Homo sapiens: one gene and its partners. The protein of the gene in region 1 interacts with the protein of each later gene in a pairwise test. Each region holds a gene or a part of one and is shown in the gene's direction. Other genes may lie near its edges.

The links.
Region 2: the proteins of POGZ (region 1) and ODAM interact in binary tests that used the Homo sapiens proteins (3 or more experiments, as listed by UniProt).
Region 3: the proteins of POGZ (region 1) and CRX interact in binary tests that used the Homo sapiens proteins (3 or more experiments, as listed by UniProt).
Region 4: the proteins of POGZ (region 1) and ZXDC interact in binary tests that used the Homo sapiens proteins (3 or more experiments, as listed by UniProt).
Region 5: the proteins of POGZ (region 1) and NFYA interact in binary tests that used the Homo sapiens proteins (3 or more experiments, as listed by UniProt).
Region 6: the proteins of POGZ (region 1) and TBX19 interact in binary tests that used the Homo sapiens proteins (3 or more experiments, as listed by UniProt).
Region 7: the proteins of POGZ (region 1) and KLHL26 interact in binary tests that used the Homo sapiens proteins (3 or more experiments, as listed by UniProt).

Annotation. Positions count from the first base shown.
Region 1 is NC_000001.11:151,424,804-151,429,105, reverse strand, and holds part of POGZ (pogo transposable element with ZNF domain), read left to right. Parts: intron 1-692; coding exon 693-983; intron 984-1,064; coding exon 1,065-1,283; intron 1,284-4,044; coding exon 4,045-4,151; intron 4,152-4,302. UniProt on the Homo sapiens protein: Plays a role in mitotic cell cycle progression and is involved in kinetochore assembly and mitotic sister chromatid cohesion.
Region 2 is NC_000004.12:70,198,289-70,202,266, forward strand, and holds part of ODAM (odontogenic ameloblast-associated protein isoform 1 precursor), read left to right. Parts: intron 1-290; coding exon 291-338; intron 339-1,813; coding exon of another isoform or gene 1,814-1,822; exon of another isoform or gene 1,823-1,861; intron 1,862-2,208; coding exon 2,209-2,313; intron 2,314-3,165; coding exon 3,166-3,213; intron 3,214-3,969; coding exon 3,970-3,978. UniProt on the Homo sapiens protein: Tooth-associated epithelia protein that probably plays a role in odontogenesis, the complex process that results in the initiation and generation of the tooth. May be incorporated in the enamel matrix at the end of mineralization process.
Region 3 is NC_000019.10:47,834,817-47,839,016, forward strand, and holds part of CRX (cone-rod homeobox protein), read left to right. Parts: intron 1-1,426; coding exon 1,427-1,578; intron 1,579-4,200. UniProt on the Homo sapiens protein: Transcription factor that binds and transactivates the sequence 5'-TAATC[CA]-3' which is found upstream of several photoreceptor-specific genes, including the opsin genes.
Region 4 is NC_000003.12:126,469,042-126,473,343, reverse strand, and holds part of ZXDC (zinc finger protein ZXDC), read left to right. Parts: intron 1-1,038; coding exon 1,039-1,191; intron 1,192-1,292; coding exon 1,293-1,371; intron 1,372-2,318; coding exon 2,319-2,449; intron 2,450-4,302. UniProt on the Homo sapiens protein: Cooperates with CIITA to promote transcription of MHC class I and MHC class II genes.
Region 5 is NC_000006.12:41,082,604-41,086,905, forward strand, and holds part of NFYA (nuclear transcription factor Y subunit alpha), read left to right. Parts: intron 1-1,442; coding exon 1,443-1,589; intron 1,590-4,302. UniProt on the Homo sapiens protein: Component of the sequence-specific heterotrimeric transcription factor (NF-Y) which specifically recognizes a 5'-CCAAT-3' box motif found in the promoters of its target genes.
Region 6 is NC_000001.11:168,311,281-168,315,132, forward strand, and holds the end of TBX19 (T-box transcription factor TBX19), read left to right. Parts: intron 1-1,427; coding exon 1,428-1,722; 3' UTR 1,723-3,146; downstream 3,147-3,852. UniProt on the Homo sapiens protein: Transcriptional regulator involved in developmental processes. Can activate POMC gene expression and repress the alpha glycoprotein subunit and thyroid-stimulating hormone beta promoters.
Region 7 is NC_000019.10:18,639,226-18,643,527, forward strand, and holds part of KLHL26 (kelch-like protein 26), read left to right. Parts: intron 1-4,302. UniProt on the Homo sapiens protein: May play a role in endo(sarco)plasmic reticulum (ER/SR) mitochondrial signaling. May be part of the ubiquitin-proteasome system (UPS) and affect ubiquitination and degradation of target substrates in cardiomyocytes.

The DNA of each region.
Region 1 (4,302 bases):
TTTTTTTAAAATCTTAGAATTTTCCATTGCTCTATTTAGCATGTATAAGTTTACTACAATTCAGACCAAAAAAGAGTATCTTAATTTAGCTATTTGTAAGGGTACCTCTGTAGCTTGTCTTCCTAAGGTTTTGTTTTTTGTTCTCGTAGCCCATAGGGGTTTAAGTCTGACCAGCTTACCCTGGCATTTCTTTATTTTTCTCAGTGGAATTGTCTACAGTTGAGCCAGGAGACATTCCTCTTTGGGACATCCTAGTAGAATGGCATAGTCTGTCTTCTGAGTTGATAGAAGAGGATGGAAGACTCCTTTAGTACTCTGAGAAAGACTGATTTCTTTTTTCAGGACCAGGTTTGCCATTTGGCCTATATACACCCATATTGCTTCCCACTCTTTTCTTCCAGTACCGAGGTCAAGCCACTGATTGTATTCTTAGAATTAAAAAGGCAGTGTGATAAGGTGTTTTAGGAGGAGTTGATGGGAGTCTTATTTAACTTAATGTTTTTAGGCTGCCCAGGTTATTTTGTCAACATGGACACCTTGTGCTTTCTTAGTCTTTAGAATCTATACTCCTCTTGGAAACCTCTGATGATCATCCATCAGTTTGGGGAAATAATCTTTCCAGTAAAGGCAGGGAGAATGTGTTATAGGTGAGCTCACTGACCAAGATCTGGTACTTTGTCTCTCTTTTAAAGCCCCAGGTACCCAGTTTGTTAAGCCGACAGTTGGAGTTCCACAAGTGTTCTCCCAGATGACCCCTGTGAGGCCAGGCTCCACAATGCCTGTGAGGCCCACCACCAACACCTTCACCACCGTCATCCCGGCCACTCTTACCATTCGAAGCACCGTCCCACAGTCCCAGTCCCAGCAGACCAAGTCCACTCCCAGCACTTCTACCACTCCCACTGCCACACAGCCAACCTCACTGGGGCAACTAGCTGTTCAGTCTCCAGGCCAGTCAAACCAGACCACGAATCCCAAGCTAGGTAAGGCTTCGGAAGAGGAGATGGCAGAGCCAGGTTGGGATGGTGGGTGGAGAACAGATGATTATCACTTGGTCACCGTAGCTCCCTCCTTCCCCTCTCCACCTGCAGTGAGCATTGCCAGCTTTGTCACTGTGAAGCGACCTGGTGTTACAGGCGAAAATAGCAATGAAGTGGCCAAATTGGTGAATACCCTTAACACCATCCCTTCCCTGGGCCAGAGTCCTGGGCCAGTGGTGGTGTCCAACAACAGCTCTGCTCATGGCTCTCAAAGAACCAGCGGACCTGAGTCTTCAATGAAAGGTACAATAACCTGAAAGACTCTGAGCAGCCAGTCATTCAAAAACATTAATAAAGTGTTTGTTGTATCAGAGCTTTATACTCAGAAATAGAAAAATAAAATAAAATACAGCTGCTGTAGTTTGTTCTTACAGAAACTTTAGTAAGGAGAAAGCCACTTACAAAAAGTGTAACTGAATCAGCTCCAAGAAATTATGTGTGTAATTGTGCTTTGGAGATTAGTGAAATTGATTGATTAAAGATGGGTGAGATAATGAAAGATAACTTCATGGAAGAGATGGATTTCTGAGCAAGGTTTTAAAGTTAGGATTTGGTAGAGAGATCTTCAGGTTGAGAATGATGAGCATGAGGGTTTTCAGTGGTCTAGAGCAGGGGTCGGCAAATGTTTTCTGTAAAGGGCCTAGTAGTAAAGTTGTAGGCTTTGTGCACAATATATAGCCTCTGTTGCAGCTATTAACTGTGCTGTTGTGGTGGGGAAGCAGCCACAGATACATAAACGAATGAGCATGGCTGTGCTCCACTAAAAACTATTTATGGACTCTGAAATTTAAGTTTCATAAAATTTTCATGTGTCGAAAAGTTTTATTCTTTTATTTCAACCATTTAAAAATAAAAACCGCAAGGTATAGTGGCTCACACCTCATCCCAGCATTATGGGAGGCCAAGACGGGAGGATCACTTGAGCCTAGGAGTTTGAGACCAGCCTGGGCAACATGGTGAGATCCCATCTCTACAAAAAAAAAAAAAAAAAAGATTAGCCAGGCGTGGTGGTGTATGTCTGCAGTCCTCGCTACTCAGAAGTCTGAGGTGAGAGGATGGCTTGGGCTTGAACCCAGAAGGTTGAGCCTGCAGTGAGCCATGAGCATGCCACTGCAACAGAACGACACCCTGTCTCAAAAAAAGTAAAAACCTTTAAAACATGGTGTTGGGAAAACTAGATATCCATGTCCAAAAGAAGTTGGATCTTACCTTACAATAAATACAAAAATTAACTCAAAATGGATCAAAGACCTAAATGAACTAAAACTATAAGACTCTTAGAAAAATTATAGGACAAAAAGCTTCATGATACTGGATTTGACAGTGATTACTATTTCTTGGATATGACACCAAAAGCATACGCAAGAAAAGAAAAAATGAGTAAATTAAATTATATCAAAATTTAAAACTTTTGTGCAGGACGTTGTCAACACAGTGAAAAGGGAAGCCACAGAATGGGAGAAAATATTTGCAAATTATGTATCTAATAAGGGGTTAATATCCAGAATATATAAAGAATTTGTGCAGTTCAACAACAAAAAAACTCCCAAACAACCTTTTTAAAAAATAGACAAAGGACTCGCTGGTCGTGGTGGTTCATGCCTGTAATCCCAGCACTTTGAGAGGCCAAGGCAGGTGGATCACGAGGTCAGGAGTCCAAGACCAGCCTGACCAATAATGGTGAAACCCCGTCTATACTAAAAATACAAAAATTAGCCAGGCGTGGTGGTGTGTGCCTGTATTCCCAGCTGCTCGGGAGGCTGAGACACAAGAATTGCTTGAACCTGGAAGGCAGAGGTTGTGGTGAGTCGAGATTGTGCCACTGCACTCCAGTCTGGGCAACAGAGAAAGACCCCATCTCAAAAAAAAAAAAAAAAGTAGGAAAGTAGGCAAAGGACTGAATAGACCTTTCTCCAAAGAAAGTTATTGCCAATAAGCTCATGAAAAGGTGCTCAGTGTTATTAATCATTATGGAAATGCAAATCAAAACCACAATGAGGTACCGTCTCACTCCCATTAGGATGGCTACTATCAAAGAACCATAAAATAACAAATATTGTTGAGGATGTGGAGAAAGCAGAACCCTTACGCACTGTTGGTGGAAATGTAAAATTATGCAGCCACTTTGGAAACAGTATGGTGGTTCCTCAAAAAGTTAAAAATGATAGAATTGTTGTATGCTCCAGGAATTCCATTCTATACCCAAAAGAATTGAAAGCAGGGACTAGAACAGGTATTTGTACACCTATGTTCATTGCAACATTATTCACAATAGCTGAAAGGTGAAAGCAACACAGAGGTCCATCAACTGATAAAGGGATAAATAAAATGTGGTATTCACATACAATGGTATATTGTTCAGGCTTAAGAAAGGAAATTCTGCTACAACATGTGCTGCAACATGGTTGAACCTTGAGGACATTATGTTAAAGTGAAATAGGCTAGTCACAAAAGGACAAGTACCATATGATTCCACTTACTTGAGGTACCTAGAGTAGTCAAATTCATAGAGACAAAGTTGAATTGTGGTTGCCGGGGTGGAGGCGAGGGGAGAATGGTGAGGAGGTTTTTATTGGATATAGCTTCAGTTCTGCAAGATTAAAAAAAACAAAAACCTTAACAAAAAAATCACATACAAATTATTCTTAGCTTATGGGCCAAACAGAAACTGGTAGCTGGGCTGGATTTGATCTGTGTGCTGTGGTTTGCTGACCCCTGGCCTAGAGTTAGAACAGTAAAAGGAAGCCTCAAACATAGTGATCTTGAGCCCAGGGAGGTCAAGGCTGCAGTGAGCTGTGGTCGTGCCACTGCACTCCAGCCTGGGCAACAGACTGAGAGACCGTGTCTCAAAAAAAACAAAAACAAACAAAAACCATAGTGATCTCTCATGCTTGCTTACCCTTTTATATACTTCTCAGGGAGTGTTTGACTTTTTCCCAAAAGGTCAGTAATCTTTTTCCAGTGTCATTGTATTAATCTTATCAATTCTTCTCACTTCTTTCAGTGACCTCTTCCATCCCAGTATTTGACCTCCAGGATGGTGGACGGAAAATATGTCCACGATGTAATGCTCAATTTCGTGTTACTGAAGCTTTGAGAGGTCACATGTGTGTAAGTGATATCACCTGTGATCCAGCTTAAGTGGCTTCTGCCATTTACCTTCATTAATATTGGAAGCTTGTAAGCAGGGGCTCTAAAATGACTGAAGCTTTTTAAAGGGTTACTGTTTCTCTTGGTCTGTTTTTAGAAGAGCTGTGTACTT
Region 2 (3,978 bases), on another chromosome or scaffold:
TCGCTGTAAGTTCTTTCTTTTATTTTCTGATTTCTAAGACAAAAAATATTTAAATCAGCTACTCTAGGATACAGCAACAAGCCAAAAAAGTTAAAAACAAGTCTAGGATAAGATAGGAAAACTTCAATAATAGGCAGTTTATGTCAGCACATGTAACGGATGACTTTTTGTTGTGGAAACTTGTTAACACAAAGGATAAATTTATATGGCTAGCTCTAGGAAAAGCAGCTCAGGGATTTTTAAATAACAAAGTCAAGCATACATTTTTATATAATTCTTTTTTTTGGCAGGTGATGCCCTATGTATTCTCCTTCAAAATGCCTCAAGAGCAAGGACAGGTAAATGGATATAACAACACTGCCCATAGAGATGGCTACATACACTCTCCACAATGCTTTCTATTTCTAGCTCTGACTCCTATAGCAGGGCTATAAAAACCTATATAATGATATCACTGTCTAGATAACATCATTGCTGGGCTAGTATCAGTTTGTTGATGTTGGGCTCACTTAACAACTCCTTAAGGACAGGCAGCTAAGTAGAGTCTCCAGGACCCCTGAATTTCCAGGGCATTGCTATGTTGAGAGTAAAAGAGCTCAGTAAGCCCCAGGTCATGTCCTCTCTGCATCCAAAGTGCTGGAAGTTGGGAAAAACTCAAGAGAAATACCATGGGCTGACTTTATCCAAATTTAAATTTTGCTTCAGAAGGAGATGCACTAAGCTGATAATATATGATATGATGTAGAGATAAGAAACACTTGCCCATGTTATTTGGCTGTTATGAAATTCTGCTCAAAACATTTTAAGCTTCTTATACATTTCCAATTTGAATCCATATTACAATCAAATGGTAATTTTTTCCATTAAATAGGATAATCTTTTAAAAATGAATGCAAACTAGTATAATCATCATATTAATATGGAAAACCCTATAAATATCAGGATTATTAATTTTACAATATTCTGGGTTCAAAGAAACAGTATTATAAATAAATTATATTACTCATCACAGAATATTGGCCTTTTCATAAAAAGTTACAGCATTTGACTCTACTGTAATTATAACTAAATAACTTTGTCCCACATCCACTCCCATTATAAAACAAAAGTTACTTCTAGACATTATCTCATTCTATGACATAAGCATTTAAAGAATTAGATGTATAACTAGAATTACTTCATCTTAAGAATCAAGAAACCTAGTCTTAATGAGATCAAATTCCTCATCCCATTGAAAGTAAATAGCTGAGTTGGAATATAATTCTCCACCCCTTCTGTCTCCTTTAACCATGAAACCAGTAGCTCTCCATCCTGGCTTTACATTAGAATCTCTGGTGTTTGAAAATTACAGACGTCTGAACCCTACCCCAGTGAATCAATACCCCATGAATAGATGTTAAGTTTGGTCATCTTCTAAAATGCTCAAATGTGAGTTTGATTCTTAGCCAGGATTAAGAATGCTTGCACAAAATATAATCCTCCTGAAACCCTAGTTGTTTTTTTTAACTTCATGTCTAATACAATCTCTTACTTTATGCAAATAAAAACAGCATACAAAAATTAACATATGTACTAAGATTCTCATTTTCTATGAACACATACACAAATAAACAGACACAGACATATAAGTAGAAGGCAATGATAATATAAATGGAAGCCACATGGTAATGTAGGTGGGGAAGTTTCAGATGATTTCATTTGTTACTTGTCTATGTCTTGATTTACCAAATATCCTAAAATATATATGGATTATTTTAATAAAGTAGCAATTCTTAAAGGCAATACATTCATAGCATTTCATTTATTATGGCAGAACATCTAATACCACATTCTGCAGAATGATGATTCTCAAAAATATAGGGTAAGTGCTACATAGGCTATCTTTCACTTAGGTATTTGCAAAGTAATTTGTATATAAAGTTTCTAAGATGTCCTTTGAAAAAAAAAAAAAGCTCTTCTGCTTAGTTCAACCCACTATTTCCTAAATGTGTTTGCCCAAGCAACCTTAAAAACCAAGTCCAGTATTACCTGGGATACAAGTTGTTTCCAAAGTTTGGGAAGGGATTCTTCATCTATTTGCTTTGTATTTAATCATATAAAGCTGCTAGACATAAAACAGCTTTTAAATAAAATTGACATTAGAAGATAAAAAGTATGTCCTATGCTGATTTAATGGAATCTCTTGTATCCTTCTCTTTTTACAAGTAGATGTTTCAATACTATCCAGTTTACATGGTCCTACCCTGGGAACAACCTCAGCAAACAGTTCCAAGGTCACCTCAACAAACAAGACAGCAACAGTATGAGGAGCAGGTACTGCAAATGTTTTATTTTAATCCTACTAGTTCCACTTGAAAATAGAGAAAATAAGGTATATTACCATAGAAAAAAAGTTTCTGAGTATATTTAATGCAAACACTCAACAGCATGAAACAGGTAGGCATAAGAGGGTAGGTATAGTGTTCTCGGCTATAAATCATTTGTGTAAACTTATTTGGTAATATTCCAGGGCTGGATTTTTAGCCAATGAAATCAGTAAGTGGACTTCAATAGAATCAAGGCCAAAAAGCTGAATAACCTCGAAAAGTGAAGTTTTCTCACATTTAAAATTTACTAGCATCCACCTTTCCACATATGTGTGTGTGGTTACTATTTAAAAATAATAAATGGCAAAAATATTAGCTACCTTGATGAAAGATATATCTGATCACTGGATTTTGAGATACAATTAGATACCATTATATTAAATTTTGTGAAACTGCAATAAATTTTTAGAATTCTAACATAAATTCAGGTGGCTCATATATTATTAACATCCTTCCTGTTAGAATGAAAATGTCTTTTTTTTAGTTTAATCATAACTCTAAAACCTGGCATTACAAATTAGAGAAAACTCAGAATTATGCTTTAAAAAACTGGTAGTATTAATTCTAATTGTCATGTTGCTTTAAAGGGAAAGAGAGAGTTTTATCCTAGAAATGATATGGTATTAAAAAGATTCTTGTTAATTTAACAATAATTAATTTTTAGTTACTGGAACATATAAACTTTAAAAATGCTTTTAACTTATATAAAAAGATATATAAGTTTAAGTAATCATTTACTGCAAACTTACGACAAGAATAATCACAGAAAATATAATACATTTTTTAAAAAATCTGACAGATACCATTCTATGCTCAATTTGGATACATTCCACAACTAGCAGAACCTGTAAGTAAATGCATATTTTTCATTAAAAATATTTTGAAACTACTTCCTTCATTGTCTACTAAATCTATCAATGCCCTTCAGCCAAAGATGACCAGGAGCGCACCTCTAATTGAACAAAATTGTATGTATCCACTCAGTACAAGGAGGAGAACACACACGTGGGGATTCTTGGGTGTCTTAATAGGAAAGTATTAGAATGACTTCTCACATGATTTGGGCTTCTTTTAGGTAATTTGGGGAAGATTGCAAAGAAGTGGTTGTTCACTCTGCAGTGGCTATTCTCAAAAGTAGGGTAGCTCTATGATTATTTTAAAAGCTCATTTCTCTAAGGCAAGGATAGTGGAGCAAGGTGAAAGCTTTAATGGGTAAAGAAGCATCAGTCGCTCATATTAGCCAAGATGTGAGAACACCTGGTATTTTCGTAACTTGTATGGTGACCTTACTTCAGACAAAATTTTGAAATTGTCTTGTTTTTTCCACCCCTTCTGATGTTGGTGTTCTGTAGAATTCTTTATGCTCAACAGGTAAGTACCTGGTCCTAGTAGAGAATGTTAGAAAGTAGCACTTTCAGAACAGAAGCAGAGGCGAGATGTCAAGCCAGTTCTCTAATAGCAAAAATTAAACTATTATTTCTGTTTTTAGCAAAATAATTTAAGAAGTTTGGGAGTGTTTTACTACTCTGGTACTCTGGGTGGCCAAAGAGCATATTTTCAACGATCACTGATTTAGACTTTTTAAAACTTTTTGTGTTTTTAGGCTATATCA
Region 3 (4,200 bases), on another chromosome or scaffold:
ATTTATTTTTCAGAGACAAGGTCTCACACTCTGTCACCCAGGCTGGAGTGCAGTGGTGGTGGTCACGGCTCACTGCAGCCTCGAACTCCTGGGCTCAAGCAATCCTCCCACCTCAGCCTCCTGAGTAGCTGGGACTGCAGGTGTGAGCCATTGTGCCTAGGCCCGGGGGGCACTTTTTTTTTTTAATTTTATTTTTGAGACAGGGTCTCACTCTGTTGCCCACTCTGAAGTGCAATGGTGCAATCACAGCTCACTACAGCCTCGAACTCCTGGGCTCAAGCGATCCTTTTGCCTTGGCCTCCCAAATAGCTAGGATTACAGGTGCACGCCACCATGCCTGGCTAACTTTTTTAAGTTTTTGTAGATTTTGCAGGATCTGGATTATACAAAACATAGAAAAAATTATTATTATTTTTTTTTTTGTAGAGATTGGGTCTCCCTATGTTGCCCAGGCTGGTCTCAAACTCTTGGGTCCAAATAATCCGCCTGACTCAGCCTCCCAAAGTGCTGGGATTACAGGCATGAGCCACTGCACCTGGCCTGCAAAGCCTTATTTCTTTTTCTTTTTTTTTCTTTCGAGACACAGTTTAGACGGAGTTTCGCTCCTGCCCAGGCTGGAGTGCAATGGCGCGATCTTGGCTCTTTGCAACTTTTGCCTCCCAGGTTCAAGTGATTCTCCTGCCTCAGCCTCCCAAGTAGCTGGGATTACAGGCGCACACCACCATGCCCGGCCAATTTTTGTAAAGCCTTATTTTTAAGAGAAGTGAGTACTCAGTTATTTGTAGCATTATTCTTTAGCTCTTGTTTTTTTTTTTTTTTTTTTCAAGACCGAGCCTTGTTCTGTTACCAGGCTGGAGTGCAGTGGCATAATCTTGGCTCACTGCAACCTCTGCCTTCTGGGTTCAAGCGATTCTCCTCCCTCAGCCTCCCGAGTAGCTGGGACTACAGGCATGCACCACCACACCTGGCTAATTTTTTGTATTTTTAGTAGAGACAGGGGTTCCCCATGTTGGCCAGGATAGTCTCAATTTCTTGACCTTGTGATCTGCCTGCCTCAGCCTCCCAAAGTGCTGGGATTATAGGCGTGAGCCACCGCACCCAGCCCAGACTTGCTACTTTTATAGGCTAGAAACGGTTGAATGTCAGCAATGTCATGCTTCAACTGATTATGTCTTAGTGCATAAGAAAGTTTAGAAGAGGGAAAAACGACTCGCACACCTCCTTGTTGAGCTAAAGCCTTGGGGTCAGGCATGAGCCACAGAGTGCCAGGCACACAGTGAGGTGTAGAAGGGCAGGGAATGTGTATTCCATCCTTAGTTTAGGCAGATGGCAACCAGGATGGAATTCTTGGCATCCCACCCAGCCTCAGGGCCTCACACCAGCCCATGTGGATGACCTGAGGGTCCTGTTTCCCATCCCACCCCAGGCGCCCCCAGGAAGCAGCGGCGGGAGCGCACCACCTTCACCCGGAGCCAACTGGAGGAGCTGGAGGCACTGTTTGCCAAGACCCAGTACCCAGACGTCTATGCCCGTGAGGAGGTGGCTCTGAAGATCAATCTGCCTGAGTCCAGGGTTCAGGTGGGGTGGTGGGTCCCTGGACCCCTCCCGACACTTCCTGTGATCTCAGGAGGCCTGCCCGGAACAAAGAGTGATGGGAGGAGGGAGAGATCACAGAGTGACAGCCAAAGTTATAAAGGGGACAATAATCCCTCTCCCCACCATCCCACTGACCGCCTCATGGCTCTCATTGCCCCTCGCTCCTCTCCAGCTGCGCTGGCCCTGACCTGCCTGCCAAGCACCCTCCTGCCTTGGGCCTTTGCACTCAGTTTCCTCTATCTGGAATGCTTATTTCCAGATAACCACACAGCAGGCCCCATCGCCTTGTTCGAGTCTTTGCTTATCCATCAGTGAGACCCACACTGAACACAGCATTTAAAATTGCATATGATTTACATATGGTATCTCAGAGTCTGTTTATTTAGACTCTGTCTCTCCCAACTAGAATGTCAATTCCACTGACGGACACTCAGAGTAGTAGAAAATGGTTAATACATGTTTATTAACTGACTGAATAGACGGATGGATGGATGGGTGGGTGGATGCATAGATGAATGTATGTATGTGTGACTGTAGGTGTGCGTGTGCATGTATGACTGGAAGCATGGATGAGTGTATGTATGTGTATATATGAGTGTCTGTGTGTATGATGGGATGGATACATGTATATATGTGTGTTTGCATGAACGCACATAGGTATGATTAGATAGATGATGAATGTATGCATGCATGATATATGTATACGTGGTGTATGTGCACATGTATGTATACATGCTTGCATGATTGGATGGATGGGTATATTTATTTATTTGAAATGGAGTCTCGCTCTGTCGCCCAGGCTGGAGTGCAGTGGCATGATCTTGGCTCACTGCAACCTCCGCCTCCTGGGTTCAAGTGATTCTCCTGCCTCAGCCTCCTGTGTAGCTGGGATTACAGGCGTGTGCCACCACACCGGGCTAATTTTTGTATTTTTAGTAGAGATGGGGTTTCACCATGTTGGCCAGGCTGGTCTCAAACTCCTGACCTCAGGCAATCCTACTGCCTCGGCCTTCCAGAGCGCTGGGATTACAGGCGTGAGCCACCGCGCCCGGCCGGATGGGTGTATTTATGTATATATGAGTGTATGCATGTATATATGATTGGACTGATAAATAAAATGTGTGTGTTAGTATGATTGTATATAGGTATGACTGGATGGATTAATGTATATGTATGCATGATGTATGTGTGTATGATGTATGGGTGTATAATTGTATATTTGTATGTTTGTATAATCAGATGGATGGATGAACATGCATATGATGTATGTATGATTAGATAGATCCATTAATGCATGTATGATGTATGTGTGTATGACCTATGTTTATATAATTATATGTATAAGATGGATGAATCTATGTATGATGTATGTGTGTACAATTGTATGTATCATCAGATGGATAAGTCTATGTATGATGTATGTATGATCAGATGGACTGGTGAATGTGTGTATGACATATATATGTGTGAGGTATGTATATATGATCAGATGGATGTCTACATAATGTATGTGTGTATGGTGTATGTATGTATAATTGTATGCGTGTATGTTTGTATGCTGTAGGTATGATGTTACATATATGTGCATACACACGTGTGTATGATTGGAAGGATAAATGAAATATGTATGTTTGTGTGATTGTATGCACATATGATTAGATAGATTAGTGTGTAGCTATGTATGCTGTATGTGTGTACAATGTATGTGCCTATAATTGTATGTTTGTATGTCTGTATGATCAGATGGATGAATATGTATATGATGTATGTATGATCAGATAGCTGGATAAATGTATGCATGATGCATGTGTGTATGGTGTATGCATGTATAATTGTATGTATGTTTGCATTAGATGGATAAATGCCTGTAGGTATCATGTATGTACGCATACATGCATGATTGGATGACTGGATGGGTTTATTTGTGTATATATGAGTGTACGCATGTATATATAATTAGATGGATAAATGAAATGTGTGTCTGCATGATTGTATGTATGGATTAATGTGTATATATGTATGATGTATGTGTGTACAATGTATGTATGTATAATTGTATGTTTGTATGATCAGATGGATGGATGAATGTGTATGATGTATATATGTATGATCAGATGGCTCCATTAATGCATGTATGATGTATGCGTGTATGATGCATGTACACTTGCATGTATGATCAGATGAGCCAGTGAATGTATGTATGATGTATATGTGTATGATGTATGTATGTATGATCAGATAGATGGGTAAACGTATGCATGATGTATGTGCGTATGGTGTATGTATGTATAATTGTATGTGTGCATGTTTGTATTAGATGGGTGGATGAATATGTGTATGATGTATGTATGATCATATAGATGGGTAAATGCAGGCATGATGTATGTGTGTATGGTGTATGTATGTATAATTGTATGTGTGCATGTTTGTATTAGATGGATGGATGAAAATGTGTATGATGTACGTATGATCATATAGATGGGTAAATGTATGCATGATATATGTGCGTATGGTGTATATATGTATAACTGTACGTGTGCATGTTTGTATTAGATGGGTGGATGAATATGTGTATGATGTATGTATGATCATATCGATGGGTAA
Region 4 (4,302 bases), on another chromosome or scaffold:
GCCAGGGAGTGGGAATGATGAGGGTCTCTAGCAGGTGAGATTGCAGAGGGAGAACCAAAGGGTGTAATTATCTATGGGGGTGTGGGGGGTTCTTGCCAAGGCAGAGAGAGTCTGTGTTCAGATTTACATGACCAAGTGTGTGAACACACCGAAGCCCAAAATACCCTGGAGGTATTTTGGGACCAGATTGAGGCCAAAGATCAGCATTTCTGAGTTAGATGTTGCTGGGGAAAGTAGGGTTCCTTGGGCTGATACTTTTGGGCAGTGCTATGCCATGTACATCTGTGTGGCAGTTCATAGGCATGATAGTATCTCGTTAAAGGCTCCAAGAGGAGCTGCAGCAAAGACTCCTGTTAAACATCCTGCAGCCTCATGTTTTCCACCCTGTTGGAGCCCTGAATGTTTCTGTCGGAGGAGAAGTATTGCTGTGGAATTGTTGAGGCTTAGCTGCTTTGGCCAGGGGTTAGGATTGAGGTGAAGATTACAAAGCAGGGAACCTAAGGAAATTGCGAAAGGAAAAAGAATCCAAACAGCAAGGGACAGGGCTGGCAGTTGGAGGGTGTCAGGGAGGAAATTTGGATATGTAGAGGATGCAGCATCACCCCCAAGGGGTGAAAAATCCTGGCTAGTAGGATGATTTGTAGCCTTTCAAAGATCAACCCTACCAGACAAAATCTTGTTCCTTAGTATTTGATTTCTCTCATGGGGTTCTTGGGTCTCAGTGTGTGTGCAGGATCAGTGCTCCGGAGCCGGCCAGTAGATGGCTGTGAACGGAGGACTTTCTCTTTATCGGTTGCTCCATCTCCAAGTCATGTTGCAACAGGTGGCCAGCGTGTGCCTATTGGCTGCCATTAGCTGCCTTCCTGTGGTGATCACAAAGCCAAGCATTAATGGTCTTCCCTTTTTAGAGAGTGCTTCTGAGTCATGTTTTCCCTTGTCTGCTTCAGTGTGAACAGGGTCTGGTGGGTGTGACTAGCATTAGCTATGTTGTATAATTTTTGCCACGCTTTGAGCAGGGTTTGTGTTTTCCTTGTTCAGGCTGTGAGAAGACATTTATCACAGTGAGTGCCCTGTTTTCCCATAACCGAGCCCACTTCAGGGAACAAGAGCTCTTTTCCTGCTCCTTTCCTGGGTGCAGCAAGCAGTATGATAAAGCCTGTCGGCTGAAAATTCACCTGCGGAGCCATACAGGTAATGAGCTAGGGAACGCACAGCATTTGGACCCAAGATTTGTCTTCATCGTAGCTGTTGGAGTTGTAAATTTTATGCTGTATAATTTTTTCTTTTATAAGGTGAAAGACCATTTATTTGTGACTCTGACAGCTGTGGCTGGACCTTCACCAGCATGTCCAAACTTCTAAGGCACAGAAGGTAATCCTTACATTTTGGTTTGCATTATCAGGTTTGAAAATGAGTGGTTTGTCAGCAGCAGAAACCAATGAATGAAATATCTGTAGACATTTTTTAAGTTGTTAAAAAAGGAGCTCAGTGTTGATGATTTGGAAAATTCAGAAAACTGTAAAAAGAAAATTGCTCAGAATCTCATCACCTGAAGTCAGTTTTTTCTGTGTATACTTTTTTTAAAAAAAGCTAAATTGGCATACTCTGTTCTTAAAAAAAAAACAATTCCAGGTTTTTTTTTTAACTTAACATTGTAGAATAAGCTTTCTTCATGTAATTACAAGTTTTCATGGTGGTAATGACAACCCTGGAGACTGTGTCCAGGTGACACTCAGCACTTTACATGTGTGTCTTCTACCTTCCCAACAACCTCAAAGCTAATGTTCTTATTCTCCCTGTTTTACAGTGAGACTCGGAGAGATTCAGTGGTTTTTCTGTACTTGCACAGCTGGGCTCTGAGGATTTAATATAAAAATGTCACTTAGGAAAAGACACAGTCTTTACAAGTTGGCTTAAGAGAGTCCTTTTGGCATTGCAGCTGATGCTCTGTGCACATTTCTCACGACCGTCTGTCGCTCGGAAAGCTTGTTGATCATTGGGGTTTCTAAACAATAGAAACACCTTCATCAATACATTTGGGACTCCACTGTTCTTAGATTAGCTTATATTAGATTGAAGTAGCATTAATTGTTTGATGTGTGACTCTGGGGTCAGCTTAGTCATTAAAGTAGAATTTTTATGGGGTAGCTAAATTGCAAATCTGCTCACATGGATTAAAGACAGAATTAAGATTTTCCGAAATGTACTGATCATTTTTGTAAATGCAAAGTTTGTGTTTTGGTATGTTTTGTAGAATTTTAAAGAATTATGGTGAGTTGTGTGAGGAATCACAGCTCCTTTATTTTTCTGTCTGGCAGGAAACATGACGATGACCGGAGGTTTACCTGCCCTGTCGAGGGCTGTGGGAAATCATTCACCAGAGCAGAGCATCTGAAAGGCCACAGCATAACCCACCTAGGCACAAAGCCGTTCGAGTGTCCTGTGGAAGGTAGATTTTAAAACATTGCTTTGAGCAGTAAACTAAGTGCAATGCCAACATTTATCCTGTTAAGTTTCCGTTGTTTAAAGGTAAATGTTAGCTGCTTAAAGACTGACTCAATATAAGTTGCAGCATTATGTTTACTTACCTCATTGAGTTAATTGTACTATTTTGGGAGCAGTGACTTGAGAATCAGACGCAGTTTGACTCATGGCCCTGATCCTCATTAGATCTGTGGCTCTAGTTAAGTTACCTGTTTAATTTGGTGGTCGTGAGGATTAGGTGAAATGTGGAAAATGCCTGTTTATCCATCTGGCATGGAGCTCGGACTCAGTAAATGGTAGGTACTTTTGAGATCACGTTTGAATTGTCACTCCAATCATTTTGTAATTGGAGAGCAGTAAAGCTAGACTGACTTTTTCTTTTTTTGTTTAATTTTTGAGACAGTCTTGCTCTGTCACCCAGGCTGGATGCAATGGTGTGATCTTGGCTCATTGCAACCTCTGCCTCCCAGGTTTAAGTGATTCTTATGCCTCAGCCTTCTGAGTAGCTGGGACTACAGGCGTATGCCACCACGCTTGGCTGATTTTTATGCTTTTAGTAGAGACAGGGTTTCACCATGTTGGCCAGGATGGTCTCAAACTCCTGACGTCAAGTGATCCACCCACTTTGGCCTCCCAAAGTGCTGGGATTACAGGTGTGAGCCACCACGCCCAACCTGACTTTTTAAAAGGTATAGTAGAGTGGTTTTTTCCTTTAAAACACTGAAGGCTCAGTTCATTTGCCAGAAATTGGCTGCGTGACCTGTGCGTGACTTGTGCGTGCTGGCCCTACTCTAGTTCTGCAGGTGCACTGGGAGGCAGTGAGCCAGGACACGTCGGGTGGTCATGGATTCAAAGTCTGGCTCTACCGCTCCCTAAAGTGGTGGCCTCAGTCAAGCTGCTTCTCTGGGCCTTGGTTTCCTTACCTGGAAGAGAGAATAATAAAGACCCATTTAAAGCTGAGCCTAGCTCTTAGAACATAATGAACATATATACAAGTGGTGTAACTGAGAAACAGTTCCTCCTTCCGTCAGAGTTTCAGCTGGAGGTGCAGACAGGGGAACAGGTAACATGTAGGGTGCTGCAGGGGCGCAGAGAGTTTCCCCAGACCGGGGTGAGAACGGCCTCGCGGTCAGCTGAAGAAGAGGGGAGAGCACCAGACACGTGCGTGTGGGTGTTGGAGGCGGAGTGGCCTGGGAGAGCCTCTCAGGGCCAGGAGTGGCAGGCTTGAGTGCTTGGGTGAGCGTATGATGTCATCATGTTTGAGTTGTGGCTTAGCCTGGCTTCAGGATTGAAAGCAGCCAGGGGTGTGGGGAGGTGGGATGGCCTGGACGGGGGCCTTAACAGTGGGAAAAGAGAAAGGGGCATCAATAGCAGAGGTGGGAGTTAGAAGTCACAGTATATGGTGATGGATTTGGATTTTAGTTGATGTCAGTGTGTCAGCTGAGTGGATTTGGAGGAAGCAGAGTTTGGTTTGGACATGTTGTGTTTTTGGTACCCTTGTGCGTCTAATGCGCAGAGGGCAGGGGATGTGCCACTGGTGCTGGGGAGAGCAGGCCAGGCAGGGAGCGAAGCAGACAGCACCCGAATCATCATTTAAGCCACAAAAGTGGATGAAATTCTCAAAGAAGAGTATAAATGGAGGAGAGTCAGGGTAGTGTAGTTGATCAAAAGCCTGAATTCTGGAGTCAGACTGCCTGGATTCGAGTCCTAAGTTTGCCACGTAAGTAGGTCTGGGGCCTCGGACAAACACTTGAAGCTCTCTGTGCCTCTTCCTTATCTGTAAAGTGAATAAAACCTCCCAGGGTTGTTGAGAAGGCT
Region 5 (4,302 bases), on another chromosome or scaffold:
TTTATTTAAAAGAAGTGGAAACACTTTATGGAAATAATAGAAACCTTTCCTCTAGGGATCTGATTATTTTGGGAGAATTTTAAATAGTTATTTTGGTTATTCTTGCTATATGTATTCTGAGAAATCTTTCTTGATACAGAATATGCAAGCATTTGGTGTAGCAAAGGGGATTTGATTTGGAATGGGGAAATAAGGGAAAGAGATAGCATGAGAGAGTCAGGCTGTAAAGTCCTTAAAAAAGTAAAGTAAAGGTTCTCAATGGACAGTTTAACAAAACTTAGGATTTCAATGTTCCTGGTGATTCTAATACATTAGTGGTGGTGGCAGTGGCGGCGGTGGTGGTGGTGATTGTAGGAGGACCTTACTATCTAACCTACTCATCTAGGACAGAATGATCTGTTAACTAATTGCTGTTACTTGCACATACTTTCATTAAGTGTGAATATTTCAGTCATGAATATTCTGTTCTAAGTAATTTCTGTCAAAGATAGAGTCTGAAAATGAAAATTTTGGACTATTCCATGGATCATTACAGTTTACTTCTAAAGCACTTTTAAAGTGCTTCCAGAAAGCATTCTATTAGGTATTTTTGTATTGGGACTTAAGATGTGACAGAGCACTTGTAGTGACCTGGCTCCTACAGTAGTCTGTTTACTCATAGGAGCTTGAAATTTGTACACTTGACTGCTCTGTGTAATTTCAATATTTGTTGTTGCTTCTGATAAAGCTAAAATAACCATGTGGATATTATAGAGGCCAGTGAGGAATTCCACCATGGAGACTGCAAACTGACCAGAAAGTGCTTTTAAGAAATCTTTAGTAGTGAGTTTAAACAACAAACATATCTAGAATTCACAGAGTAAAATGAGCAGGATAAAGGTATACATTTGACATTTCATTTTAGCTTGAGAGACTGTAGGGAAAAAAGGGTCATCCTCTACATAAGCTTCCAGAGCTGCTTGCTACCCAGCCTCCTAGAGTCATTGCTGGGTACAGTTTGATTTACCTTCTTCACTTTATTTAGAATTTGTACTCAACCACCATCACCACCATCACCTTTCCCTCTCATTGCCTTCTCTCCAGCCTTCACTACAGACCATTCCTGGATTGGTTTAAACAGGCAACTAACCTTGCCATTATGATTAAATGTTTGTCATGGATTTAGCCCGTGTTTGGTGACAAATGCCTTATATCTATTGAGACTTCTCAAAGACTCTGGATATTCTCCATTATGTCTGACCTTAAAGTATTGAGCTTGGCATTTAGTAACAGGATTCATAGATATTTAAAGATAACTTGAGGACTTGAGACATATATTTTCTTAGTCTTTTCTACCTTTTCCTTTTCTAGCAAGGCAGCAGAATAGTTCCAGTGATTGTCTTTTGGTAAAAACCATTTTGTGTCTTATGTTATTTCATTGTTCTTATTTTATTTCATTCTAGGTCCAAGGGCAGCCATTAATGGTGCAGGTCAGTGGAGGCCAGCTAATCACATCAACTGGCCAACCCATCATGGTCCAGGCTGTCCCTGGTGGACAAGGTCAAACCATCATGCAAGTACCTGTTTCTGGAACACAGGGTTTGCAGCAAGTGAGTAATATTTAAAAATATTGAGCAGTATATCAGAGGAGAGGTTTCAAAGAATAGATTATTACAACCTATTTGATAATTGATATTGCATTTAACTGCTTCCTAACCCACATTTTGCATTCAGTTGATTTTCTGCCTTTATAGTACCAGTGATATAAACTAGAACTATGCAGAAATTGGACAGCTCCAGTAATGACTAAGATATTAGGCATGATCTTGAATTGCTGTAAAGTATATGAAGAGGTTAGAATCTAGTTTATAGTATATTTTATTTTAAAAGAAACAAAAATGAGTATTTAGAAAGTTAGAAAAATAACAAAACGAGCAAAAAGTGGGTCCAAATTAATTAAGTAGAAAACTGACGTATAGAAAGGATAAATAAAATCTAGATTGTTTAAGCAGACCAATAAAACAGGTAAATCCAGTTGAAACACTGATTGAGAAACAGAAAACAAAAGTAAGCAAAGATGTAGAAGAGATTAAAGGAAGGCCAGGCGCAGTGGCTCATGCCTGTGATCCCAGCACTTGGGGAGGCCAAGGCAGGTGGATCACTTGAGGCCAGGAGTTCAAGACCAGCCTGGCCAACATGACAAAACCCCATCTCTACTAAAAATAAAAAATTAGCCGGGCGTGGTGGCACGCACCTGTAATCCCAGCTACTTGGGGGGTTGAGGCATAAGATATCTTGAACCCAGGAGGCGGAGGTTGCAGTAAGCCAAGATTGTGCCACTGCACTCCAGGCTGGGCACCAGAGCAAGATTCTGTCTCAAAAAAAAAGAAGAGATTAACAGAAATATGTAGAAATGTTACATACAACTCTGTGGCATCATATTTTAAAATTAGATATTTCTCATCGAGATGGCAAAAAAAAACAAAAAGTCATTATATCCACTGTTAGGATGGATGTGGAGAAAAAGAATTAATCATTATTTTTGGTAATTTAAAACTGTAGAGTTATTTTGGAAAGGCACCTCACTATCTGTTAAATACAATGAATATTTGAGCTAGCAGTCCCACTTCTGAGAATCTGTCCTATAGGAAGAAAAGCATCAATAGTAGGGGGAAATTACAAAGACACTTTTCATAGCATTGTACTAGCAAAAAATAAAATTGCAATCTGAGTGTCCATTAATAAGAATAAGGAAATGGTTGGAATAAATCATAATATATTCATAGGGAATATTGCATCATCATTAAAAGAAATGAACTGTTGACTTGGGGTGGGTTAATATTGAAATATTTTTAGTGGAAATAATTTGCAGAGAAATAGTGTGTGATCTCATCTTTGTAATTCATAACCAACCCCCCATGAGTATATGTTTATAGTCATGGAAAAGAGAGTATGAGATAACTATTAGTTACTCTATCTAAATGTTTATATTGTTTCAACAGTTACAGCAGTCATATTAATGTCTTAGTTTTCTGGAGGAATTTAAGTTGAAAAAAGCAGCCATGATCCCACTGCTCATAAATCAAACTTGTACTTTTTGTGTATTCTTTTGTGTTTTTATGCATAATTTTTGGGCATAATTGTACCATGCATGTGGGGTTGTGTTTTCATTTTTTTTTTTTAATTCTTTCATAATGTTCAGTCAACTTGATGAATCAGAATTTCTAATTTATAAAATATAGTTAAGGATTTTGGTTTTCATTTGCCTTTGTAGGTAAACATTTGGGCACGATAGTTTTATTTTTCAACTGAATTCTCAGGATAATTTCTTTGGATTGGGGATTGCTTGGGTAAAGGGTAAGAGTATATTTGAGCCCACTGGCATATTTTTGCCAAGATAGAATTGTACTTGGGATTAAAAATAGTTTTCACATTTCTCTTTGCATAAATATATGAGGCTTTAAATATCTTTTCAGCATGTGCTTTCCTTGATTCCCTATTGCTATATCCTTTCTGTTCTTCTCTCTTTGCTTCCTCTCCAGTCCCCCTTGCTGCGCCTTCTCCACTGTTGAGTAGAGACAATGTGGTATAGTTAGGAACAGTATACTGTGAGTGTAGTGGTCCAAGCTTTCATTACCAGGTCTGCCATTAAATAAGCATTCTGATCTTGGCCAAGTTATTTAATTGTCGGTTTGCTCATCCAAAAATAAAATTTATATGAGATGATATCTAGGGTTCATTCTAGCTCTAAATTCTGTGATTTTTATGGGGTTTTATTTTGCTATAAGGAACCTTCAAATAGTTATTTCCCTGCTTCCAAGTAGGGCTATAACTAACCAAGCTGAAAAAAATATATTCTGTTACGTAAATAAAGCTCTCTAGGTGAGATTCCATAGCCTCCCTTACAATACTTAAGGCTTTAATCCCCTTTGTATAGGAGTTTTTTTTCTCATTAGTGTTGAGTAGCCATTTTTTAAAGAAGACTACTTCTTAACCTTTTTTGAATTGTATTCTCTATTTTAGAATCCTAGTAAAGCTTGCACCCTCTAAGAAAAAGTAGAGATGTCCAGTCTCATGAAAAATTCTGCATATAATTTTAGATTAAAATCCTTGGCCTGAGAAAGATACTGGAACCAGAGAGACAGCCAAGAAATAGATAGAAGAATATTGGAAGTTGGCATATAATAAAAGTGGTATAAACATATCAATGAAGAAATGGCTGAAGAATGATACAGAAAAGAAACTGATTTCTAATTCATACTGTATTTTAAAAAATATTTGCTAGGTGGATTAAAGATCTAAATGTAGAAAAGTAAACTTGGA
Region 6 (3,852 bases), about 17 Mb from region 1:
TAAAATTCCTATTTTGCTGATGAAGAAACTGAAGCTCAGAGGCCTTAAAAACTTCCTGAAGGTTCTGCAGTAAGCAGTACCTCTCAGAGCCCATGGTTCTCCCACTGGCCCAGGAGGCATCAGAAAGGGTCTGTAAGAGATAATGTAGAAGAGCATCTTCTGAAGATTGGGGCCAGAATCCCCATAAGCTGAGCTAGCTCAGAGAGAGCTCAGAGGATGGGCTGCTGAAGGTTTCATATGGTCCAAAGAGGCCTGTAGCATTGAAAAATGGCACCAGGTGAAGGATGGCATTGCCAACTCTGGCTTCCCTGTTGGTGTGTTTAACTCATTCCTGACTCCATAAATATTTTGTTAGAAACAAAACAAAACAAATGTATTCAATATTGCCATTGGATAATAAGCATATTATCAAGCAATACAGTGTTGGGCAATGCAGAAACTCTAAAATGTAAGAAACATAGTGATGACTACAGGCCGAAAACATTGGGTTCATTGCACCTGTTCCAACTGCATCTATATTAAGGTGCAAGCTTGGCTGTACATTACAGTCACCTGGGAAACTTAAAAAAATCCTCGTACTCAGGCTGCATGCCAGATCAGTTCAATCAGAATCTCTGGGGCAGGGGAGTGGGGTGAGAGTGGGATCCAGGCACCAATATTACTTTAAAAACCCCCCCTAGTGATTCCAATGTGCCGAATGTGCAATCAAGTGTGTGAACCTGTGCTACAGAACTAGAGAAGGCAAAGAAAATGTTGTAGCTCCCAGCCTTTCAGCCAGGCACCAGAGCTCACAGGCGGAGACCAGGAATGGAAGAATTAATGTTAACAACCACCATTTACTGAGTACTACATGCTAAGGACCATATACTCCTCTTATTTAATCCTTGTAGCAATCTCTGTAAGGTAGGTAAAATTATGAATCCACATCTTGAAGATGAGAAATTGACACTCAGAGATATTAAATAATCTAGCCAAGGCCACAGAGCTAATTAAGTGGTAGAGCTGGGATTTAAACTTAAGTCTTCTGACAGTGATGTTTCCTGGTTATTATGCCACATTGGCCAGGGAGAGATCATATGCAGAAATCATACAGTTTTAATACCTTTTTTTCTACTGCCCTGCCAATTTTACATAGGCTGCAAGGGAGCCCAGATAAATGAAATTCTGTGTCTAAAACCAAATAATTCGCTGGTGGCCGGGCCAGTACCAGAATACTTAATCTTATCATTATTCCACCATACTTTGCTGCTTCTCTTAGCTTTTCTGCAGAAACAGGACCAATCTGCGTCATAGCTAGAAATAAAGCCATGGCCAGAAGCCCTCCTGTAACCATGCCCTTCTCAGCACTGTGTACATGCTTGTCAGGTGGCACTCCTTCCTTGGAGTGCCAGTGAACATTCCCTTCCCCTCTTTCTCTGTCTCTGCAGCCCCTACCCGTGCCTGTGGACCATCAGCAATGGTGCCGGAGGCCCCAGTGGGCCAGGCCCGGAGGTGCACGCCAGCACCCCAGGAGCATTTCTCCTCGGAAACCCAGCTGTGACTTCACCCCCTTCTGTGCTCTCCACCCAAGCACCCACTTCGGCTGGTGTGGAGGTTCTGGGGGAGCCCTCGCTAACCAGCATTGCTGTGTCCACCTGGACAGCAGTGGCCTCGCATCCCTTCGCGGGCTGGGGTGGCCCAGGAGCGGGTGGGCACCATTCTCCTTCCTCACTGGATGGTTAAGCAGGATCCTAGGAGCCTCTTTGCACAGCGATCCTTCCATGTGTAGAGTGCTTAGAAACCCCATCAACTGATCTAGTGAGTCAGACTGTGGAATCTCCCTTCCCACTAGCTGGAGGTGGAGGTGGGTTATTACAGAAGTCATACTGGGAGAGGGTTCAGTTTGGATGATGCTAGTTAGATCATTTGCATCTCTCCACCATTTTCTTCTGCACTCCCATTTTCTCTGCAGCTTATTCTTGCCATGCTTAGGTGACAGAAGTTTGTTAAGTACCATCCTTGTGCCCTGCCTCTTATTCTCAAATCGTTCTGGAAAGCCTCACTTCCTTTTCTGTGGAGAAGGTGCAAAGCTGTTAAATGAGCTCAGAGTTTACCTAGCTAAGGCCACTGCTTCCTGCTTTGTGAAGCCTGGAAAGTATGTGTGGCCACAGGGCTCAGGTTCACACTTCTGCTTTGAGACCAGGATGGGGTGTAAGCCATAGAGTAAGGTTAACAAAAAGAATAAAGCTAATCATGTATTACAAACAGCAGTGTGCCCAGACTTGTGGAAATGAAGTCATGTCACTCCTCTGCTCAGAAACCTTCAATGGTTCACCATTACCAGTGGAATGAAGTCAATTCTCCTCACTATAACTGGGTGTGGTAGTTTAAGCCTATAATCTCAGCCCTTTTGGAGGCCAAGGTAAGAGGATCGCTTGAGGTCAGGAGTTCGAGACCAGCTTGTGCAACAAAGTGAGAGCCTGTCTCTACAAAAAATAGTCATGCACACAAAATTAGCTGGGCATGGTGGCCTGTGCCTATAGTCCCAACTACTTAGAGGAGGATCGCTTGATCTCAGGAGGTTGAGGCTGCAGTGAATTATGATTGTGGCATTGCACTCCAGCCTGGGTGGTAGATCAAGGCTTTGTTTCATTTGAAAAAAAAGAAAGAAAGAAAGAAAGAAAGAAATCCTACTACGAGCGATCACACCATCTGGCCTGAAACCACTTCCCCAGCTTAGGTCCCTCTGTTATCCTGTTGGCCTCCTATGTATTGGTCAAGGCAGGCATCTCTGTTCTCTGAACATTCATTGCACTTTCCCACCTCTATACCTTGCCTGTGCCTTAGTGTCCTCTTTTTTCCAGTTCACCTGTGCGAATCCGACCCACCTCCCAGAGCCTGGCTGAAACGTCACTCCCTGCATCCAACATCTGATCTGCTGAGATATGTCTGATCTATCTCTGCTCGCTGTTCTCCCGTTGTTTTTGCCTCTGCCATAGAGCTCACCTCATTTTGCCTTGTATTTTTGTTACCTGTGAGTGTGTCTCTCCCTATTAGACTGTAAGCCTCTCGAGGGTGAGGCCTAGCCTTCTTGTCTTTGTAACCCACAGCAGCTGGTACTGTGCCTTGCCTATTGTAGGTGCCCAATAAACATTTGCTGAACTGAATTGGTGTAATGTGCATGTGTGCTACAAGGACGGTGTGAAGTGGCTGGGGGGCAGATCTCAGAGACACATGCCCCATGACACATAGGTGCATCCGTGTGGGAGCCTAGGAACATGCTGGCTGTTAGTTACACGGGCTTCTCATCTGAGGCACCACCAATTGTCAGTGAATGACAATCATATATGGAGACAGGGTGTGTTAGAGTGGTTATTCCCAAATACTGGTTCTTGGATCCCCTAAGTCAGGATCACCTGGAACAGGGGACCCTTGCTAGACATACAGATTCGTGGGTATACCCCGTACCTGTTGGATCAGAATCTTTGGGGCTGGCGTTCAGGAATCTGCATTTCAAACAAGAGCTCCAGGCATTGGCCCTGGGCTAGGTTTGGAAACTCCTTGCCTAGAAGAGAGAAACAGGATGATAAATACTCCAGGAACCTTATTTCAGATGAGTTTTTACCTCTGCCCCAGCCAAGGTCATTGCTATAACCCGTGAGCAGAATCAGTTTCGTGAGTCTTCCTCCTCTTTTTCTACCTACTACTGGATGTGCTAATAACCTTGGGAGTGAGGTTTCCAGACCTGGGTGATGAGCAGTTCTCCAAACATTGACTTTAGACTGCACTGGCTGAGCAGCCCTTCTCAGGGCCGCCACTTGAGGAGTCTAAAGTTCCACTTGGAGCCTAGCATTGGCTCAGCTGCTTCCACCA
Region 7 (4,302 bases), on another chromosome or scaffold:
CCACCATGCCTGGCTAATTTTTGTATTTTTTAAGTAGAGACAGGGTTTCACTGTTGGCCAGGCAGGTCTGGCATTCCTGAGCTCAGGTGATCCACCCGCCTCGGCCTCCCAAAGTGCTGGGATTACAGGCGTGAACTACTGCACCCAGCCAATTCACTCATTTTAATTTATCATTAAGTTTTTTTTTTTTTTTTTTTTTTTTTTGAGATAGAGTTACTCTGTTGCCCAGGCTGGAGTGCAGTAGTGTGATCTCGGCTCACTGCAACCTTTGCCTCCTGGGTTCAAGCAATTCTCCTGCCTCAGCCTCCCGAGTAGCTGAGACCACAGGTGCATGCTACCATGCCCAGCTAATTTTTGTATTTTTAGTAGAGACGGGGTTTTGCCATGTTGGCCAGGGTGATCTTGAACTGCTGACCTCAAGTGATCTGCCCGCTTCAGCCTCCCAAAGTGCTGGGATTACAGGTGTGAACCACTGTGCTCAACCCAGGTCATTAAGTTTCAGTACATTTACTGAGTTGTGCATCCTTCACCACAATCCAGTTTTTTGGAATGCTTCCATCACCCCAAAGAGTTCCCCCAAGCTCGTCTGCAATTAACCCTGCTCCACCAACATACAGCCCCGGGGACATCCTGATCTGCTTTCACTCTCTGTAGCTTTGCCTTTTCTAGAAATTTCGTAAGAATGGAATCAGACATGTGGCCTTTACGTCTGGTTTCTTTCCTTAACATAATGTTTTTGAAGTTCATCTGTGTTGTTGTATCAGAAATTTGTTCTTTTTCACTGTGGAGTGAAAATAAACAAACTGTGTCCGTCCATACAATCTCGTATGGACGGACACAGTTTGTTTATCCATTAACTGGTTGATGGACTGTTGGGTTGTTTCCATTTTGACAACTGCAAATAAAGTTGCTGTGAACATCTGGATATGTGTCTCTGTGTGGACGTATATTTTCATCCTCTTGGGTAAATACTTAAGAGTAGAATGACTAGTTCATATGGTAGATGTGTTTAAATTTCTTTTTTTTTGAGACAGGGTCTCACTCTGTTGCCCAGGCTGAAGTGCAGTGGTGCAATCACGGCTTACTGTAGCCTCTACCTCCTTGGGCTCAGGTGATCCTCCCACCTCAGCCTTCCAAGTAGCTGGTAGGTACTACAAGGGCGTATGCCACCACACCCAGCTATTTTTTCTGTGCTTTTGTTGAGACAAAGTCTTGCCATGTTGCCCAGGCTGGTCTTGAATTCCAGGGCTCAAGCAATCTTCCCACCTCTGCCTCCCAAAGTGCTGGGATTACAGGTGTGAGCCACTACGCCTGGCTATGTTTTAATTTTTTTTTTTTTTTTTTTTTTTTTGAGATGGAGTCTCTCTCTGTTGCCCAGCAGTTGTTCACTGCAACCTCTGTCTCCTGGGTTCAAGTGATTCTCCTGCTTCAGCCTCCTGAGTAGCTGGGATTGTAAGGATGCGCCACCACACTCAGCTAATTTTTGTATTTTTAGTAGAGACGGGGTTTTGCCATGTTGGCCAGACTGGTCTTGAACTCCTGACCTCAGGGGATCCGCCTGCTTCGGCCTCCCAAAGTGCTGGGATTACAGGTGTGAGCCACTGAGACTGGCCATGTTTTAATTTTTAGGAAACTGCCAAGCTTGTTCCCAAAGTGGCTGTACCATTTTGCATCCCCACCAGCAATGTTCAAGAGTTCCAGCTCCTCCTCATCCTCACTAACACCTGGTATGGCCAGTCCTTAGTTTTAGCCATTCTTATAGGTGTGTGCTGGTGTCTTCATTTGGTGTTTTTATTTATTTATTTATTTGTGAGATGAGGTCTCACTCTGTCGCCCAGGCTGGAGTGCGATGGTGCGATCCTAGCTCACTGCACCCTGGAACTCCTGGGTTCAAGCAATCTTCGGGCCTCAGCCTCTGGAATAAGTGGGATTACAGGTGTGCACACCACTGTTCCCAGTCTTATTTTGGTTTTAATTTGCATTTCTCTAATAACTAATGATGTTGGACAGTTTTTCATGAGCTTCTTAGCTATTCATCTCTTTGGTAACGTGTCTTTTCAAATGTTTGGGCCATTTTTAAGTTGGGTTGCCTTTTTTTTTTTTTTTTTTTTAAGACTGAGTCTCGCTTTGTTGCCCAGGCTGGAGTGCAGTGGTGCGATCCTAGCTCATTGTAACCTCCACCTCTTGGGTTCAAGCGATTTTCATGTCTCAGCCTCCCGAGTAGCTGGGATTACAGGTGCATGCTACCACACCCGGCTAATTTTTGTATTTTTAGTGGAGACGGGGTTTCACCATGTTGGCTAGACTGGTCTCAAACTCCTGACCTCAGGTGATCTGCCTGCCTCAGGCTCCCAAAGTGCTGGGATTAGAGGCATGAGCCACCACACCCGGCTCTTTTTCTTTTTTCTTTTTTTTTTTTTTGAGATGGAGGCTTGCTCTGTTGCCCAGGCTAGAGTGCAGTGGCGTGATCTTGGCTCACTGCAACCTCTGCCTCCCAGGTTCAAGCAATTCTCCTGCCCCAGCCTCCCGAGTAGCTGGGATTACAGGCGTGTGCCACCACACCCGGCTAATTTTTGTATTTTTAGTAGAGACGGGGTTTCTCCATGTTGGTCAGGCTGGTCTCGATCTCTTGACCTTGTGATCTGCCCGCCTCAGCCTCCCAAAGTGCTGGGATTACGGCGTGAGCCACCATGCCCGGCCCTCTTTCTTAAAAGACATCTTTGTCATTCTCCCCTATCCTCCATCCTAGTGAAAAATCACTGTTTGGAGCAACTGATAGGGGCATCTCATGCCTCAGGTGCTAGTGTGGGGAGAACCCCTAATGTGGCAAGATGGAGCATGCAGAAAATGGATCATATTTTGAGGGAGATTGGTACAAGACATTCTCCCAAAAGTCATTTTGAGACATTGAGTCTTTGTAGCATTGTTCGTCTGTTCCTTCATTTATTGCAAATGGGACAGCCAGGCCTGGAGCACGACCCACCTCCTCGCCTCAACCTGCCCACGTCTCCTTCCTCTTCATCCTTCCACTCTCCAAGGTTCTGGCCCCTCAGAGCCACCTGCCTGACCATGCAAGCTCAAGTAGTCCCCAGGACACTTTTGCTAGTCACCTAGTGTGTGTGTGTGTGTGTGTGTGTGTGTGTGTGTGTGTGTGTGTTTGAGATGGAGTTTCGCTTTTGTTGCCCAGGCTGGAGTGCAGTGGCATGGTCACTGCAACCTCCACCTCCCGGGCTCAAGCAACTGATTCTCTTACCTCAGCCTCCCGAGTAGCTGGGATTACGGGCGCCTGCCACCAAGCCTGGCTAATTTTGTATTTTTAGTAGAGGTGGGGTTTCTCCATGTTGGCCAGGCTGGTCTGGAACTCCTGACCTCAGGTGATCTGCCTGCCTGGGCCTCCCAAAGTGCTGGGATTACAGGCGTGAGCCACTGCGCCCGGCTTGTGGTTTTTTGTTTGTTTGTTTGGTTTGGTTTGAGGAAGAGTCTCACTCTGTCGCCCATGCTGGCATGCAGTGTCGTAGCTACCTGCAGCCTTCTTGACCTCCTGGGCTCAAGCTATCCTTCTGCTTCAGCCTCCCGAGTAGCTGGGACTACAGGCATCTACTAACACACCTAATTTTTTTTTTTTTGAGACATTGTCTCATTCTGTCGCCCAGGCTAGAGTGCAGTGGCACAATCTGGACTCACTGCAACCTCCACCTCCTGGGTTTAAGCGATTCTCCTGCCTCAGCCTCCTGAGTAGCTGGGATTACCAGTGCACGCCACCACGCCCAAATAATTTTTGTATTTTTAATAGAGACGGGGTTTCACCATGTTGGCCAGGGTGGTCTTGATCTCCTGACCTCGTGATCCACCTGCCTTGGCCTCCCAAAGTGTTGGGATTACAGGCGTGAGCCACTGTGCCTAGCCCACACCTGACTAATTTTTAAAAATTGTTTTGGGCCGGGCGCGGTGGCTCATGCCTGTAATCCTAGGACTTTGGGAGGCCGAGGTGGGCAGATCACTTGAGGTCAGGAGTTTGAGACCAGCCTAGCCAACATGGTGAAACCGCTTCTCTACTAAAAATACAAAAATTAGCCAGGATTGGTGGCACGTGCCTGTAATCCCAGCTACTCGGGAGGCTGAGGCAAGAGAATCACTTGAACCCGGGAGGCAGAGGTTGCAGTGAGCTGAGATCGCTCCACTGCGCTCCCACCTGGGCGAGAGAACCAGACTGTCTTAAAAAATATATATATTATTTTATAGAGATGGGGTCTTATTATTATTTTTTTTTGAGATAGAGTTTTGCTCTTGTTGTCCAGGCTA